4 linked regions of the Homo sapiens genome follow. The protein of the gene in region 3 purifies or fractionates together with the protein of the main gene of each other region. This does not show direct contact. Each region holds a gene or a part of one and is shown on either strand. Other genes may lie near its edges.

The links.
Region 1: the proteins of DEFB109B (region 3) and MAN2A2 purify together in Homo sapiens (affinity purification with mass spectrometry; one large-scale study listed by BioGRID and IntAct). This does not show direct contact.
Region 2: the proteins of DEFB109B (region 3) and CACNA2D2 purify together in Homo sapiens (affinity purification with mass spectrometry; one large-scale study listed by BioGRID and IntAct). This does not show direct contact.
Region 4: the proteins of DEFB109B (region 3) and SEL1L3 purify together in Homo sapiens (affinity purification with mass spectrometry; one large-scale study listed by BioGRID and IntAct). This does not show direct contact.

The regions. Positions count from the first base shown.
Region 1 is NC_000015.10:90,901,859-90,906,101, reverse strand, and holds the start of MAN2A2 (alpha-mannosidase 2x), read right to left. Parts: upstream 2,801-4,243; 5' UTR 2,670-2,800; intron 2,577-2,669; exon of another isoform or gene 2,368-2,576; intron 1,913-2,367; 5' UTR 1,895-1,912; coding exon 1,763-1,894; intron 852-1,762; coding exon 594-851; intron 524-593; coding exon 379-523; intron 258-378; coding exon 86-257; intron 1-85.
Region 2 is NC_000003.12:50,497,135-50,500,634, reverse strand, and holds part of CACNA2D2 (voltage-dependent calcium channel subunit alpha-2/delta-2 isoform b precursor), read left to right. Parts: intron 1-3,500. UniProt on the Homo sapiens protein: The alpha-2/delta subunit of voltage-dependent calcium channels regulates calcium current density and activation/inactivation kinetics of the calcium channel.
Region 3 is NC_000008.11:7,311,527-7,315,521, forward strand, and holds the start of DEFB109B (beta-defensin 109B precursor), read left to right. Parts: upstream 1-1,195; 5' UTR 1,196-1,319; coding exon 1,320-1,377; intron 1,378-3,995. UniProt on the Homo sapiens protein: Has antibacterial activity.
Region 4 is NC_000004.12:25,747,989-25,751,488, forward strand, and holds part of SEL1L3 (protein sel-1 homolog 3), read right to left. Parts: intron 577-3,500; coding exon 437-576; 3' UTR 1-436.

The DNA.
Region 1 (4,243 bases), on a different chromosome or scaffold from region 3:
TGGCACCCATAGCTTAAGGTAAGACCCGTCCACCCAGCCTGGGGCTCAGACAATGCCCTCCCATGCCTCCCCGCCTGGTACTGGCCTTCGGACTGCCGCTCTCTTTTGGACATTGATGTTGTCCCACCACTTGGCGAAGAAGGAGACCTCTGCCCAGAGGAAGCGCCGCCGGGGGTCCTCCTGCAGCTTAGACACCATGCTATTGAGGATGTGTTGGGTCTGCTCTGTGTAGTACTTGTCAAAGGTCTTGATCCAGCCTAGGGAGCCAATGTAGGGTCCCCTGAGGATGCCACCATCTTCTTCGACGTCCCTCCCTTGTATTGGCCATCAGAAATCCCACTCCACACTCCAGCTCCCAGGAGTCTGCAGGGCCCTCACCTGGGTCATTGTGAGAGTGGGGCACCACAAACACCTGCAGGTCTTCAGCATCCCAGTCGTGCGGGTCGTAGGAGATGTCGAAGCCTTGCCTCCACACACCACCATCCACGTTGTCAAACGGCAGCTCCTCCGACACAGTGAGCATCTGCCAGGTGAACTGCAGCTCAGTACCCCAGTCGTGGCCACTGTACGTCCCTGCCAGCTCTGACTCTTACCTGCAGCTCTGGCTTCTGACCCCGGCCCCCCAAAGCAAACTGGCAGTCCTGCGGGGAGATGGAGAAGAAGCTGGGCCGGGGCTCCGGTGGCACCACCCAGGAGCCATTGACCGTGTAGTAGGGCAGCATGGCGGGCGGGCCCTCTGCGTTGGCTGTCAGCTCCAGCACGGAGTCCTTGATATGGCTGATAATCTCATGGTTCTCCTCCAAAAGCTGCTCCAGCTGCTCAATGCGGTTCTGCAGCACAGAAATTTGGCTCTGCCAAAAAACCAGAAAGCAATCACACACAGCTCCTTATGCCACAGGGAGGGTCTCTGCTTGGGGTCTACCAGCTGAGGCCTGAGTACAATTCTTCCCTCATCAGTCAAAGCCAGACCATGAGCCTAGAGGGATAGATGACACCGTTCAGATAAAGGGAGCTGTGCAGATCACCACTGAGGACTACACTCCACTTGGGTTGGGAGAACCATCACTCTCTAGCTCAGGGATGGCAAAGATTTCCTTTCACCTACCTATTCTCAACAATCGGTGTTGCCTGTGCTGAGGATTTCAGCGGGGCTTAATGGCAAAGAATGCTGCAATCAATTAGCAATGTCTGCCAAGAATTCAGGAGGGGCTGGGCGCGGTGGCCCACACCTGTAATCCCAGCACTTTGGGAGGCCAAGGTGGGTGGATCACCTGAGGTCAGGAGTTCAAGACCAGCCTGGCCAACATGGCGATACCTCGTCTCGTCTCTACTAAAAATACAAAAATTAGTCGGGCATGGTGGCAGGCTCCTGTAGTCCCAGCTACTTGGGAGGCTGAGGCAGGAGAATTGCTTGAACCTGGGAGGCGGAGGTTGCAGTGAGCCAAGATCGCGCCACTGCACTCAAGGCTGGGCGACAGAGCGAGACTCTGTCTCAAAAAAAAAAAAAAGAAAGAAAAGAATTCAGGAGAACAGAGTGACAATACTCATTGCCATTGACATTTTTTCTTCCTTCCTTCTTTTCGCCATCACTGTTTTTAGCTGAGGGTTTCTACAAAACCTGACTATTGGGAAGGAAGGCTCCTGTCCTGTACTGACATTACCCTCCAGCGGGGGGTGGGAGGGGAGGCGGCGGGGTGGGAGGTGCATACCCTGAGCCCAGGTGACTTGTATACAAAGAAATTAGCAACCAGGCACGACTCACCCGGGGGAAGTTCCCACCATTCTGGTGTCGGGTGGGATCGTGTTGCACTCGGTCCAGCATGAGGTAGAGCGAGAAGACTGCCACACAGAAGATGGCAGCCCCACACACTGTCACCTGCTTTTTCAGCTTCATACTGGCCTCCACACACACCTGGCAGGAAGGACACCATCTGTAGCTCCAACATGCAAAATGCCCGTGGCAGTCTTTCCACCAAATACCCCAGTGAGTTCCTGAGGGCTGTTCCAAAGGAACACCCATTTGCCTGGCTCCAAGTAGCACAAGCAGCACATCTGAGGCTGGCCCACCTGGTCCTGGTAGCAGCTCTGCCGCTAGGGTGGAGAGGACGCTCTCCTTTGGCTGGTGCTATGAAAAACGGGCCCAGGATAAGAGTCCCAGCTCCGACTGGAGCGCACCACACAAGCTCCTGATTACACAGCTTCCCTGCCTAGATAGGAGGTGCCTGTTCAGGCTCCTCGGCCATGTGCTTCTAGTTTCAGGTGAATAAGCTAGTCTCTATTTTGTTTGATTTAAAAGTTTAGCCAGAACCCAAAGAGACTGATAGGAAAGCCTTTCTCAGTGCCCTTTCGGGTCAAACTGGCACTCACCAGAAACAGTGCCTGGCACGATCCTTTCTCAGAAACACAGAATGAGTTTCTTTCTAATAAAGAAGAAAGATGCTTGTGTTTCTAGCATAAAGCAAGCCCTGTGTGTTCTCCCTGTTTCTCTACTGTTCACTGCAGTGGGAAACTTCCAGCCGCGGTTTGCAGAGCACTTAGGGGACCCCTAGGAAGCCTGCAGTGACGCCGAAGGCCCCCTGGGAAGGGAGAGACGGGGCCCAGTGCTCAGCTGCGAGGCAACTTCAGGGGACCCGTGCCCCCCGCCGCCACCGCCCTCGGGCTCCGCTTGCCTGCTCAGGAGGAAGGAGGACGCTAACTGCGGAGCCGAGCGTGGGCGGGACCGCGCTCCGGAGTCTGCTCCGCGGGCCCTGGGGCCGAGGAGCTTTGTCGCCTCTGCGTTGTGCCCTACTTAGCGCGATCTGATTCTGCTCGGGAGCTTCCGGGCAATATTTTCAGCCCTTAGAGACTGGGTCTAGGCCAATGTGGGTGGAGCTGGGGAGAGAGTTGGATCACAGAGGGCAGGCACCTGCCGCCAGGTCTCTGGCCGCCCGCCCGGCTCCCTCCCCACCCGCTCCGACTTCGTCGGCCCCGGGGACCGCAGAGACAGGCGCCAGGTACGGGCCTCAGGCAGCCTCCTGTCCCTTCCTGGCCCCTCTGACGCCGCAGTGGCGCTCGCACTCCCGCCGCCCGAGCCCGGCCTCTGTCGGGGCAGCCGGAGCCCTCCCGCGCGCGCACCCGGCCCGTTACCGTCAGCGCCCGGCCTCCGCGCCGCTCCGGGCCCAGTCGGCCGAGCTGCCGGCTCTCACACGCCCGGGGACGGCGGCCCGCGTGCAGGCAGCGACGCAGGCGAAGGCGGGCGCCCGCCCACCCGTAGCCCCCTGCTCCGCGCGCCGCTGCCGCGCTCCCGCTGGGCCCCGGGCCGCCGGCGCGCTCCGCTGCGCCGGCCCCGCGCGGGTCCGCCAGCCTCTGAAGCTGCCGGGCCCAGCAGCGTGCGGGGCGGGGACAGCCGCGCCGCCCGCCCCGGCCTGCGTGTGCCCGGCGGAGCTGACAGGAGCTCTGGCCGCCGCGGTCCCCGCCCGGCTCCTCCCGGGCCCGCTCCGCTGGGCTGCAGTGCGCAGCCGCACCAGCCCGGGCCGGGCCTGGCCAGCTGCGGAACCTCAGGAGGGACGCGCGACTGAATTTTTTCGGAATCCTACTTGAGTAAGCGCATGATCGGGCAGTGGTCGAAACGCCCGCCTCCGTCTCGGCAGACGCGTAGCGGGGTGCGTTCTCCGCGGCCTCACCCGGCTCCGGCCCAGGTAGCCTTAGGTCTCTGTCGTTGCGCCCCTCGGGCAAAGGGGTGCTGCCTCCTGTCGGTACAGCGCATTCCTCGAGTCCCTTTCCTTTCCGTGCCTGCTCTATGTTTCCTGCCAGCGAGTGAACAAGACACAGACTTTTCTTGGCTGTTTCCCTTTTACTGGGCATCTAGGTTGTTTACAGTTTTTCAGTGTAATCCATACTGCAATGAACATCTCCATGAATTCCACATTTTTGTTCTTTTTAAGTTATATATAACATTATCTGAATGTGACCCCCCAAATTCATGTTCAAATCCTAATCCCTCAAGGTGATGATGGTATTAGGAGATGGGCCTTTGGGGGTGAACAGAGTTTGAAGGGAGAGCTCTCATGAATGGGATTAGTGCCGGTATCAAATGACCCCGAGAGTCGGCCCCTTCAACCACGTGAGAACACAGCTAGAAGGCACTATCTGTGCACCACAGGCAGGCCCTCACCCGACACTGAATCCGCTTATGCCTTATCATGGACTTTCCAGCCTCCAGAACTGTGAGAAAATACATTTCTGTTGTTGATAAACTACCTAC
Region 2 (3,500 bases), on a different chromosome or scaffold from region 3:
ACCTGAGTCCGAGCACACCTTTCACCTGCCTCCTTTTTCCAGTTATGCCCTCCCCAGCATCAGGCCACCACCGCCGGCTGAGGGGCAGCCCTCACTGCTTTGCCTCCCCTTGTGTCTTTCCCTCCCTCTTCCCCTGTCCCCCTTCTTCAGGTCTTTCATCGAGCTGTACCTATCCTTCCCTGCCCGCCTCTTTTGTCCTCTCTGCTGGGCCTCTGTGCCCTGTTCTCCAGTGCCCCCAGGTTTCTCTGTCCCCTCCTCTGTGGAGTCCTGGCTGAGTGCTGGGTGGAGCACCCGGCTGAGCTGGCCCACCTGACTGCACCCTCTTAGCCCAGCTCTGCTCCAGCGATGGTGTTGGCCAGCGTCTCCCTTCCTCTGAGGGTGGGCAGAAGCAGTGAGGGGCCTGAGGGGTTTGGACCACCAGCAGATTAATGACAACCAGAGTACGTGCTCCTCTCCTGAGTGGACACATGGGGAGCAGTGCCTACAACAGGGCATGCGTCAGTGTAGCTACGGTTAATGGTGGGTGACGTGTGTCTGTCTGGGCCTTCCAGCCCCTGTCTCCATCTCCCTGTGGCTCTCCCTGTTGGAGGGAGGCAGCATCACTCATCTGGGTCCCCCATCTTCCCAAAAACCTGCCTCAGCTTTTGCAGGAGGGAGGGATGAGGCTTCCCAGCCGCTGCTGCTGTCACCGAGATGCAGAGCTGCCAGGTGCTCACAGCCCTCCTGGTGTGGAGGACTTTGGGGGGACCCTTGGCTGCTGTTCCCCTGGACTCCATCTTTATCAGGCACCTCCTTTTGGTCAGCTGTGCCAGGTTAACCCCTGAGAAAGGAGGAAACTCATTTTAGGATGAGTCCCCTCGTAGTCTGCAGGTGAATCTCACTCCAGATTCTTTGTCACACTCATGTCCCCATGGAGAGACTGACTCCAGAGTAAAGCTGGCCTCTAAGTGGACTTCTGCAGAAAGTATCCCCTTCTCCTCCTGCCTGTGTGCAGGTGGGCACTGCCAGCTCCTGGCATCTCAGATGTGTATGGGTGGACACTGCCAGCTCCTGGGAGGATGTAGTTTGGGGACATGCTGGGTGTCAGGTGTAGACTTTGCAGGCTCCATTGGGATGACCTTGCCTTAGTTTCCACAATTGAAATGATAGAATCTGCTTAAGAGGCTGGTGGTGAGAATTAACGGGAGAGGATGCCGCCTCTAGTGGGCAGGGAGGGCTCCGTCAGGTGCCATGGCTGCCACTGTTAACATTAGCATTAAGCCCAGATGTTGCAGCCGGGCGGTAGCCAGTCTTACTGCGAGACCCACCAGTCTCCAGGGCTCCCACGGGCTAGGTGGCCGCCTGTCTCTCTACTTTGCTCATGCTGCCCTGCCATGACTGTGCTCTTTTCTCAGGTTTAGATCCCCTCCTTCAAGGTCTCACACCCGAACCTTCCAGAGGCCTTCCCATCCCAGCTCTGGGCTGTGCCACTCTCTCAGGCTGTGCCCACCCACATCAGATTCTACCTCCTTGAGGAAGACATTGGGCCACCTCCCTCCCTCACTCCCTGCAACACAGCTTGACTGTGGTGGGGGACGTCTCCAGGCTAATGGTGATCTCCCTTACTGAGCCCAGGCCAGACCCCTCACCCACATTAGTGCCTTGACCTCAGAGCCCGTGGTCATGTCCATCCTCCAGATGGGGAGACTGACCTCAGAAAAATGAAGGGACCTGCTTAAAGCCCACAACCATGAGAGGCAGGGCAGGGGAAAGGATAGATCTGTCAGACACTTGGCTGCCCAGCCAGAGGGCTGGGGACATCTGGGCAGTGGGCCCAGGAAGTGGAGGGGGGCTTGAAGCCTGAATCTCTGGGAAGAAAATGAAGAGGCCTAGGATATGAGAGCTGGGCCTGGGACTTCCAGCTGTAACTTTGCCCTGTCTGTCTCTCTTTCCTCCTCTGGGTCTCAGGCAACCCTGAGGGGCCTTCCTTGGCATGAAGCTGCCTTGCCAGCCCCAGTGCTTATAGCCCCAGTGCTGACCTCCATCTACCTCCCACGTATACACAGGCCATCATGGAGCACCCCCAGCCCAGAGCTTTCCTTCCCCCAGCTTTGAGTTATGGGCCAGGCCTGCTCTGTGTGGAGGGGTGGAGGAGAGGAGGGGCTTCATCTGGAGATGAGATGCCATTTCCTTCTCCAGATTCCAGTCTGATTCCGGAGAGAAAGGTCATGGAGGTGGGGGTGGGGCTGGGGGTTGTTCATGGAAACCTGAGGCTGGCTCCTTTAGTCCCTTGGCAGTTTTGCCAGGTCTGAGGGGACTTCACAGGGCTAGGATCTTATAGATGCTGGGGGAGCCTCATGCCATCCGGATGGGTGGGACTTGGGGGGTTTGGGAACCAGCGTTCAAGGGCTTGTTGCTAGGGAACTCTCCAAGGGGCAGCTGGAGGTTTGGGAGTCAAGGCAGGTGGGCTGAGCTCTGTCTGGCAGGGCGATGTTGCCTGTAAGATAGGAGTGGTCTTTCTCTCTCTTCCCCCTTCCAGCCACCTACCCCACTCCCGTGCGGAGATTTGCCTCCAGACCTGGTGCCTTGTGTCTTTAAGTGACTGGGCTGTGGGCCTCAGGCCTGGGGAGGACATGCTGGGGAGGACATGAGGGGCTTTCCCATTGCTGGCTACAGCCCTCCAGCCAACTGGGAAGATTCTCTTCATGTCAGGTTTTTTTTTCTTTTCTTCTTCTTCTGGTGCCTACTGTCTAAACAAGAAGCTACAGAATCAATATTCGTATTCCCCAAGGGAAGTGTGTGTGTGGTTTTTGCTTTTTTTTGCTTCCCTTCTTCTCTTGTCCTGTGGAACCTGAAGAGCTTCCAGAGCTGCCTGTGGCTAAGGGCAGAAGGGGGGCCAGTGCAGGTGACCACAGAGATTGAGATGGCCCTGCTGGCTTGCAGGTCCCCACAGGGGTCTCTTGGGGCCTCCCTAAAGGAGTCAAGATTCTGTCATTCAAATCTACATAAGGTCAGGACCTAAGGGGCAGACTCAGCCAAGCCCTGCCCTGCCACTGTGAGACTCAGGCTGTTGGCTTGGTGTCCCCGGTCCTGGTCCCGCTCCTCTCACCTGGGCCCTCACAGTGCTTTTCCTTCTGCATCTGGTCTGGACCTGCTGGGTCCCCAGCCATCACTGTTACCCGTGACTGAGCCTGGTGAGGGGAGAGCCTCACAAACCAGGAGACTGTCTAGCTGGGATTAGGTGGGGAGAATATTCACAAAGGAGTTCTGAAAGCCCCCATCTTAGGTGAGGAGGCCTCTGTCAAGGGCAAGCCCAGCCTAATCTTCTCAGTTGGGTAGCTTGCTTGGTGACCTTGGACAAAACCCCTCCTCCCCCTGGGCCTCAGTTTCCTTTCTTCCAGGATCCTTCCAACTCTGACATTCCAATGCCCTAAGAAGACAGATCTGGGGTCTTCCTGCTCCTCTCCACGCCCTGCTTTAGCTGTGGCCGCTGGGCCTTGTCTCTTCCAGTGTGAGGGTGC
Region 3 (3,995 bases):
GGTCTCCTCTGGATGTCCTTAGGTAGACACTGCAGCAGAACTGTAAAGTTTTTCTGGAAGTCTGGGGAAGAGAGGAGGAAACAGAGAAGGGGCAAGAGGAGAAAATAGAATGAGGCTCAGAATACCAAGCCTTAGTGCTGTCCCTATCGCCTTCCTCGCTAGATCACTGGGTGATCCTGGGCAAGTTTCTTCCTTTCCCTCAGCTTATTTCCTCATCTGTAATGTAAGTGACTAGACAAGATAGCCTATGATGTTCATTGTAACTCTAACTTTTCCTTCCCAAAGCAAATAGCTGGAAAAGACACTGTGCTTACAATATGCAACAAATAAAAACAAAAGATTTTTAAAAACCCCTAGTGTAACTTGAATTCTTACAAATAAGCAATGGTACATCATAATTTTACAAAGCTCTTTTGTGATTTCATTTTTAAAATCAAGTCAAGTTTTATTTTACTTCATAATAAGATAATGGAGATAAGTGTTAAATGGGTTCATGAAGGAATGTTTGTAAAAGATGCAATAATCCAAAATAGGTAATTGTTATATTAGTAGTTCCCTTTACTTGGGTGGGGGGGGGGAACAGATAGAAGAGTGTTAGGAAAAGCTTCATAAAGTGGATTATATAGAATGTGCTTTAAAAGAGTTTGGTGTTTTACTGAGTGGGGAAAGAGCAATATGGGGAGTTATTGTTCAAGGGTTAAAGCTATAAAAAATGAATCAATTACAGAGATAGGCTCCAAACCATAGTACTTATAGTTAACAATAAGGTATTTTGTATTTAACAATTTGTTAAGAGGGTCGATCTTAGGGGTTCTGACAACAACAACAACCACAACAAAGGGACGTAGGAAACATTTGGAGGTGATGGATATATTATTACCTGGATATTGGTGTGGTAACAAGATAATACTTATGTGCAAACTTGCCAAACTATATCCATTAATTATGTACTTTTTGTGTATAACAATTTTACTTCAGTTCCTACTATATTGCCTGGCAAACAATAGATGTATAAAGTGAGATCAATGATTATTGCATATGCATGTCAAAAATAATAAAGAAAGCAGGTGACAATAAAGACATCCTGAATCTTTGGGAAATAAATAGCATTCACCTGCTTTCTCATCCATTGAGATATCACCACCTTTATGTACTTATGTGTCCCTGGAAGTTTCCCGTGGGAGATTTAGTTATTCTCTTTTCGTTAGGCTCTACTGACCAAGAACAAATCACAGACTCAGAGAGCATCATAAAAAGGCCTAGACCCACGATGCCCAGAGACTCCAGGCTCAACCCACATTGATGCTGGCCCTTCAGCCATGAGACTCCATTTGCTTCTCCTTATTCTCCTTCTTTTTTCAATTCTCTTATCCCCAGGTAAGTTGGTAGCTCATTACTATAAGGTTCTGCAGATGAGAATGCTATATCCCTGGCCAGACAAGAACCTAGAATCAGTCCTGTGGGTTCAAGAACCTAATATTTACAGCTTCACTAGGATTATAATAGGGAAAAATAGAAAAGAGACTCATTTAGCAGTATGTCCTCTTGATAAGATTCCATCCATGTCTTTTGACCTAGTGAGTGGATATAATAATGGATGCTGCTGAAATTCAATCCTGTCAGATGAAACTGCCTACATGTAAATTTCCATGCCCCACCAAGCACCTCAAGATACAAAGTAAGGATACAACAGAACATGACCTCAATGAGATGCCTTTGCGGGACATGGAAATTTATATGCAGGCAGTTAGATCTGACAGGATTGAATTTCGGTGGCATCTATTATTATATTCACTTAATAGGTCAAAAGAGATGGATGGTATCCTATCAATAGGAGCTACTCTAAATGGGTGTTGACAAATCTGAAGGTTTTATTCGAAGAAACAGAAAAACTATAATCCTAGAATAAATGAAAATTATATGAGAGACTTTTCAAAATAAATTATGTTTTATGTGGTTATGAATAAAAAATGATTTTCAAAGTGCAACTGAAGAGTAGAAAGGAGAGTTAAAGGAACTTCAGACAAGTGAATTAATAAGGAGCAAAGACACCAACAAGTGCTGCTCAAGGTATATTACAGGTAACCACACAGAAATGGGTAACATAACTTTCAATACAAAAATGGCTAAAATTTACTGGGCTAAGCATGCATTTTGGGGGCTTTTGGAAAAAAAAAACAGCATAATAAACCTAAAGAAGATAAAGGGAAAATTATAAATACAAAATATAAATTAATGAAACAAATGAGAAAAAACAGTATTTTAAAAAATGTTTTTCAAAAAGTCTAATACACTTTATAATAACCTGGCAACACTGAACAAGAGAAAATGAGAACATGCTTAAAATAACTATTGCAGGAATGAAAGGTTAATATCAAAACAGATGTTTCAGAGATTCAAATAATTTTTAAATTTGTGTATATTCCGTCTTCACTGTGTACTTGGGGATTTTCCTGTTGCAGTTCACTATATCATGACTGTGTCATCAATTTTGATGCTAGTAAATTATTACCATCAGCATACAAATATGCTGTTGTTTTTCTGATCTAAGAAAAAGAATTTCCTTGCTTTTCTTCTGATGCCAGCTGTCCTCCCCTTTTTTGCTCTACTTTTCAGCAAAACATCTTAGAATAGTTGTCCATATTCTCTGTCTTCAATTCCTCTCCTCTCATTGTTTCTTAAATATATCCCAATCAAGCTCTCATTGTTTCTTAAATATATCCCAATCAGGCTCTCTCCCCCTTTTTCGATCATGCTATTGACACCACTTTTGTCAAAGTTATGAATAATCTCCACATTGCTAGATCCAATGATCATTTTTCACTACAACTTTAATCGACCTATTAGCAGCATTTGACACAAATAATCACTTCCTTCTTCACAGTATACTTTCTTCATTTGGCTTCCAGGACGGCTCATTCACTTGATTCTCAGCCTGTCTCACTGGAGCTACCACTTCGGCTTCCTTTGTTTCTTCCTCATCTTTTGCTTCACACCTCCTACAGGAGAGCTCCAGAGCTCAGTTCCTGGTCCTCTTCTCTTCTCCCTCACCACACACTCTTTGGAGGGGCTCAGCAAGTCTCATCCCTTTCAATTCTCCTTTTGGACCTCCTTTTGAACTCCAGGCTTATAATAAATTATCCAACTGCATAACTGGTATATCTACTTGGACACTTGATTTCAAAAGTAATATATATCCAAAACCAGACTCACGATTTTCCCTCAGAAACCTCTACATACACATTTTTTCTCTTCTTGCAGAGTGCCATGGTCAGCATTGGAGCCTCTCTTAGCTTTCCTGTCCACTTTCATCCTCAGCAAGCCTCTATCTCTGCACCTCAAGAATCTCTCAGGGCTCCCATCCCTTGCCCAACCTCGGGCAGTAGCTGCCACACACTCAGTGAAAGACCAGAGAAACTACTTCTCTCAGCTACCGGCCCTGCCCTGCCTTCAGACCTCATCATGCCTCTCTTCTTATGCACCTGTGAGAACAGAGAGTGAAGGGGGGATTCTCTCAGCTCCCCAACCCACTCCCCAGTAACACAGGGTTTTCCTCGATTCTCACAGTGAGACCTTTACCTTGCTCTGACCTCAAATTGCACCAGTTCCTACATGCCTGTCCCTCAAAAGTGTCTCAGGTAGTTCTCCTGCTCTCCATCTGATCTTACCTAGGAGCACACAAGATAGGTCATGAAAAAACCATTAGTGGGGCCACACGCGGTGGCTCACGCCTGTAATCCCAGCACTTTGGGAGGCCGAGGCCGGCAGATCACGAGGTCAGTGGCTAACACGGTGAAACCCTTTCTCTACTAAATACAAAAAATTAGCCGGGTGCGGTGGTACATGCCTTTAGTCCCAGCTACTCGGGAGGCTGAGGCAGGACAATCACTTGAACCCTGGAGGCGGAGGTTGCGGTGAGCCGAGATCGTGCCATTGCACTCTAGCCTGGGCGACAGAGTGAGACTCCGTCAAAAAAAAAAAAAAAAAGAAGAAGA
Region 4 (3,500 bases), on a different chromosome or scaffold from region 3:
AAGCACAGGTACCAAAATATTATCCACCTTGTAGAGTAGTCATAATTTTCTGTTCTTCAATAAAGGGATGAAGCACGCACTGTGATTCTTAAGACACATCTTAGTGTATAAGAATCCAGATCTGCCGTAGGGCATGCTATGACTCCTAATACATACAATCACTAGAACAAAAGTCTGTGATGGCCCAGTAAACTTCCCCACATGCCCTATGATCAAGATGTTCCTTGTATGTGTTTGATGACCTTTGGTATTACCACTGCCTGATCTGGGTACTTCCTTGTAATTTGACTTTAAAAAAAATGACACCAATTGCAAAATTTGCATCCAGTTGACAAGACATTTAAGGTGTTTATCAGGATCATGCCCTGGCCCCAGCTTCCCAATACCAGCTGTTGAAAAGATTCTCTCTCATCTGGAGAGAACTGGAGTGCACAGTTCACCCACGTGGCTCCGGGTTATTAGTTACTGTGGGCTGGTCTTGGTCAGAGGCATCTGCAGCTGGAGTCACAGCTGGACTTGCAGTGGACGTGGCAGTGTCTGGGGAGGCCTGGGATGGTCTTGGAGGGGGATCGCTTGCTGCAGAGACACATGCACAACAGGTGCTGAATACTCAAAACAGTGCATTCAGAATGTACAACCACACCTAGAGACTCTGGCAAGCCAGGAGAGATGCATCTAGTCTAATGAACCTGACACTAACTAGCCAGGCAACTCTGGACCCGTTATCTAAGTTTAAGAAGATGCCACCACATGCTGACAATCTGATTTCTAAATAAAAACCCTTCAAGAGTTTCACCTCCAAGTGCCGATGCTCATTCCTAAGGGGACATTCTAGGAAGTTTAAGAATGGGTCCCCAAACTTCTGGCTTTTCTGGATATATGCGGGAATTCTTCGGGCCCCTTCCAGTACCTACAGAAGAGGTCGTGGATTCCAACACTCTTCTGAAAGAATAGGAGAGTGATGGGGAGGGGCAGGATGTTGTAGAATGATGTACCCTTTCTAAGGTCATTAAAGCCACTACTCTGGCAGGTGATCTAGTGATTAGAGCCCCAGTGATGAGGTACAAAGACCATTTTGCAGCAGTCAGGAGAACTGGGTTGGACAAGCCTCATTTATCTGCTGCTAACAAGGGACCTTGGGATAGGTACAGATGGCAGACATTTTGGTTGTAAAATGTTTGAGTCTCCCGGGCCTCGGTTTCATCACTTGTGAATTGAGAGTCTTGGATTAGATGATCTTGAAACCCACTTTGATCCTAAGATTTACCTTCCTGATGATCTCTGAGGAAGTTAATGAAGTACTAAGGCATGTATTTTCAAGCTCAGGGAAATGTTTAAATCACCATGGTAACAAGATAAATCAGCAATGAGTTTTCTGATTTAAAAAAAAAAAGTGCCAATGTGTAAATGTAGAAAGAATGCATAATTAGCATTGCCACCATTTAAATCTTTGGTAAGAGCATAGTAAAAATGTTTGATGTTTCTACAGGAAGTTAGTCATTATCTGTGTGAGGACTCCCCTTCTTCCACTGGGGGGTTTGCAATCACTGCACAAGCCCCCCACAGCCCGGCCTAATTTTAAAGTGGCCTCTTTGTCTCTGCTCATCTGGAATGTGTGCTAATTTTATTATTGGACTAGAATCAAGGTAACCAGGACAATAAGCATGTTGTTTAAAAAATTACAGAGTATATTCCAGAGCCAAATAGGAGTGATTTGTGAATTATTTGCTGCCTGGGGGACCATTTTCTGTACATTAGTGAGAAATATCACGAACTGGCCCAAACTGCAGCCCATGGGCCAAACGTAGTCATTGCTTGTTTTTGTACGGCTCGTGGTTTAAAAAACAGTTTTTACAATTTTACACAGTTGAACAGAAAAAGAGTAATATTTCGCGACATGTGAAAAATATATGAAATTCAAATTTTGCATCCATAGTAAAGATTTATTAGAAACCCAGCCACAGGCCGGGCGCCGTGGCTCACGCCTGTAATCCCAGCACTTCGGGAGGCCCGGACGGCCGGATAACCTGAGGTCAGGAGTTTGAGACCAGGCTGGCCAACATGGTGAAACCCTCTCTCTACTAAAAATACAAAAATTAGCCGGGCGTGGTGGCACGTGCCTGTAATCCCAGCTACTCGGAAGGCTAAAGCCGGAGAATTGCTTGAACCTGGGAGGCCGGAGGTTGTGGTGAGCTGAGATCTTGTCACTGCACACCAGCCTGGGCGACAGAGCGAGACTCCATCTCAAAAAAAAAAAAAAAAAAAAAGAAAGAAAAAAGAAACCCAGCCACAATGGCTGCTTTTCAGCTACCGGCTGAGTGGAGTAGTTGTGACCAAGACAGCCCCGAGGGCCCAAAATATTTATTATCTGGTCCTTTACAGAAAAAGTTTGCTGATCTCTGCTGTTAGGAAGAACATCTGCTTGCCGACTGACCAGATGGAAGCAAAAAAGAAAGAATACGTGGGACTATGTTGGATTCACATGTGAAATGAGAGAATGTTTGCACAAAGGAGGTATACAGGGGAAAACCCTAGAAATTGTATGCTATAAGTAAGATCATGCCTACTTCATCTGGGCCTCTGGATCTAGCAGGGACCAGATTTGTGTCACTGAAACACTCTTCAGGAGTGGAGATACTGGTAAGATGTCAAGCTAATGAGACAGGACAGAGTACAACCTCCTCATGAAATCTCTCTGACTATAAGGCTACTGCTTTCTTCATAAGCACTACTTTGTGACATTTTACTATAATTTTAGTAGAAACCTCATTAGCTGGAAATGTAGATGACAGGAAACAGCAGGAAAAGGTTTAATTAATCTTATACATATCACCATACTCTTTTTAAAAGAACATTAGGCTAACCACTTAGCTGGAAGGAATGAGTTGTCTTAAATTATAAATGTATTGAATAGGCTGACGTTGGTTTAAAACGTTACCTAGTTGTACCGAGGAGCTAGCAGTTCTGCAAATCTTGCTCTATATGGTGTATTCTATTGAGACATAAAGTTGACATGATACTAGTAAGACAGGGCTCTTTCTTTGAAATAGTGACTTCTATTTTCCACTTCTGTTCTTGCCTTTAGCTTCCTTCAGGCAGCTGACGGTCAGGCTCTGTGATTTTTTGGTCTCAGGGGAGGTTTGTGGCCAGGCAGAAGTGGAGATGGCTCCAGACATATACTTTGGGATTTTTTGTTTTTCAAAAGCCTGATCCATTAAGGCAATTATGCTTGGTGTACCCTCCCAAAGAGTGGACAAGGAGAGTGCTTTTGAGATGCAACAGGTGAGGAAAGGAGCTTTTTGGAGTCCTTGGGTTGTACCCACAGTACCCTTGGGTGCCCCATCAGCAATCAGAAATGAAGACTTGGGAGAAGAAGGGCTAATGACGCTTGGCTTTGGCAAAGATGACGGAGTTCCCAGGTGACCCAGAAGCTGCAAAGCCAATGGACCTAGGGGAACAGTGTAGGCCCAGGGTGATGTGTGTTCTGCTATCAGGCTGGT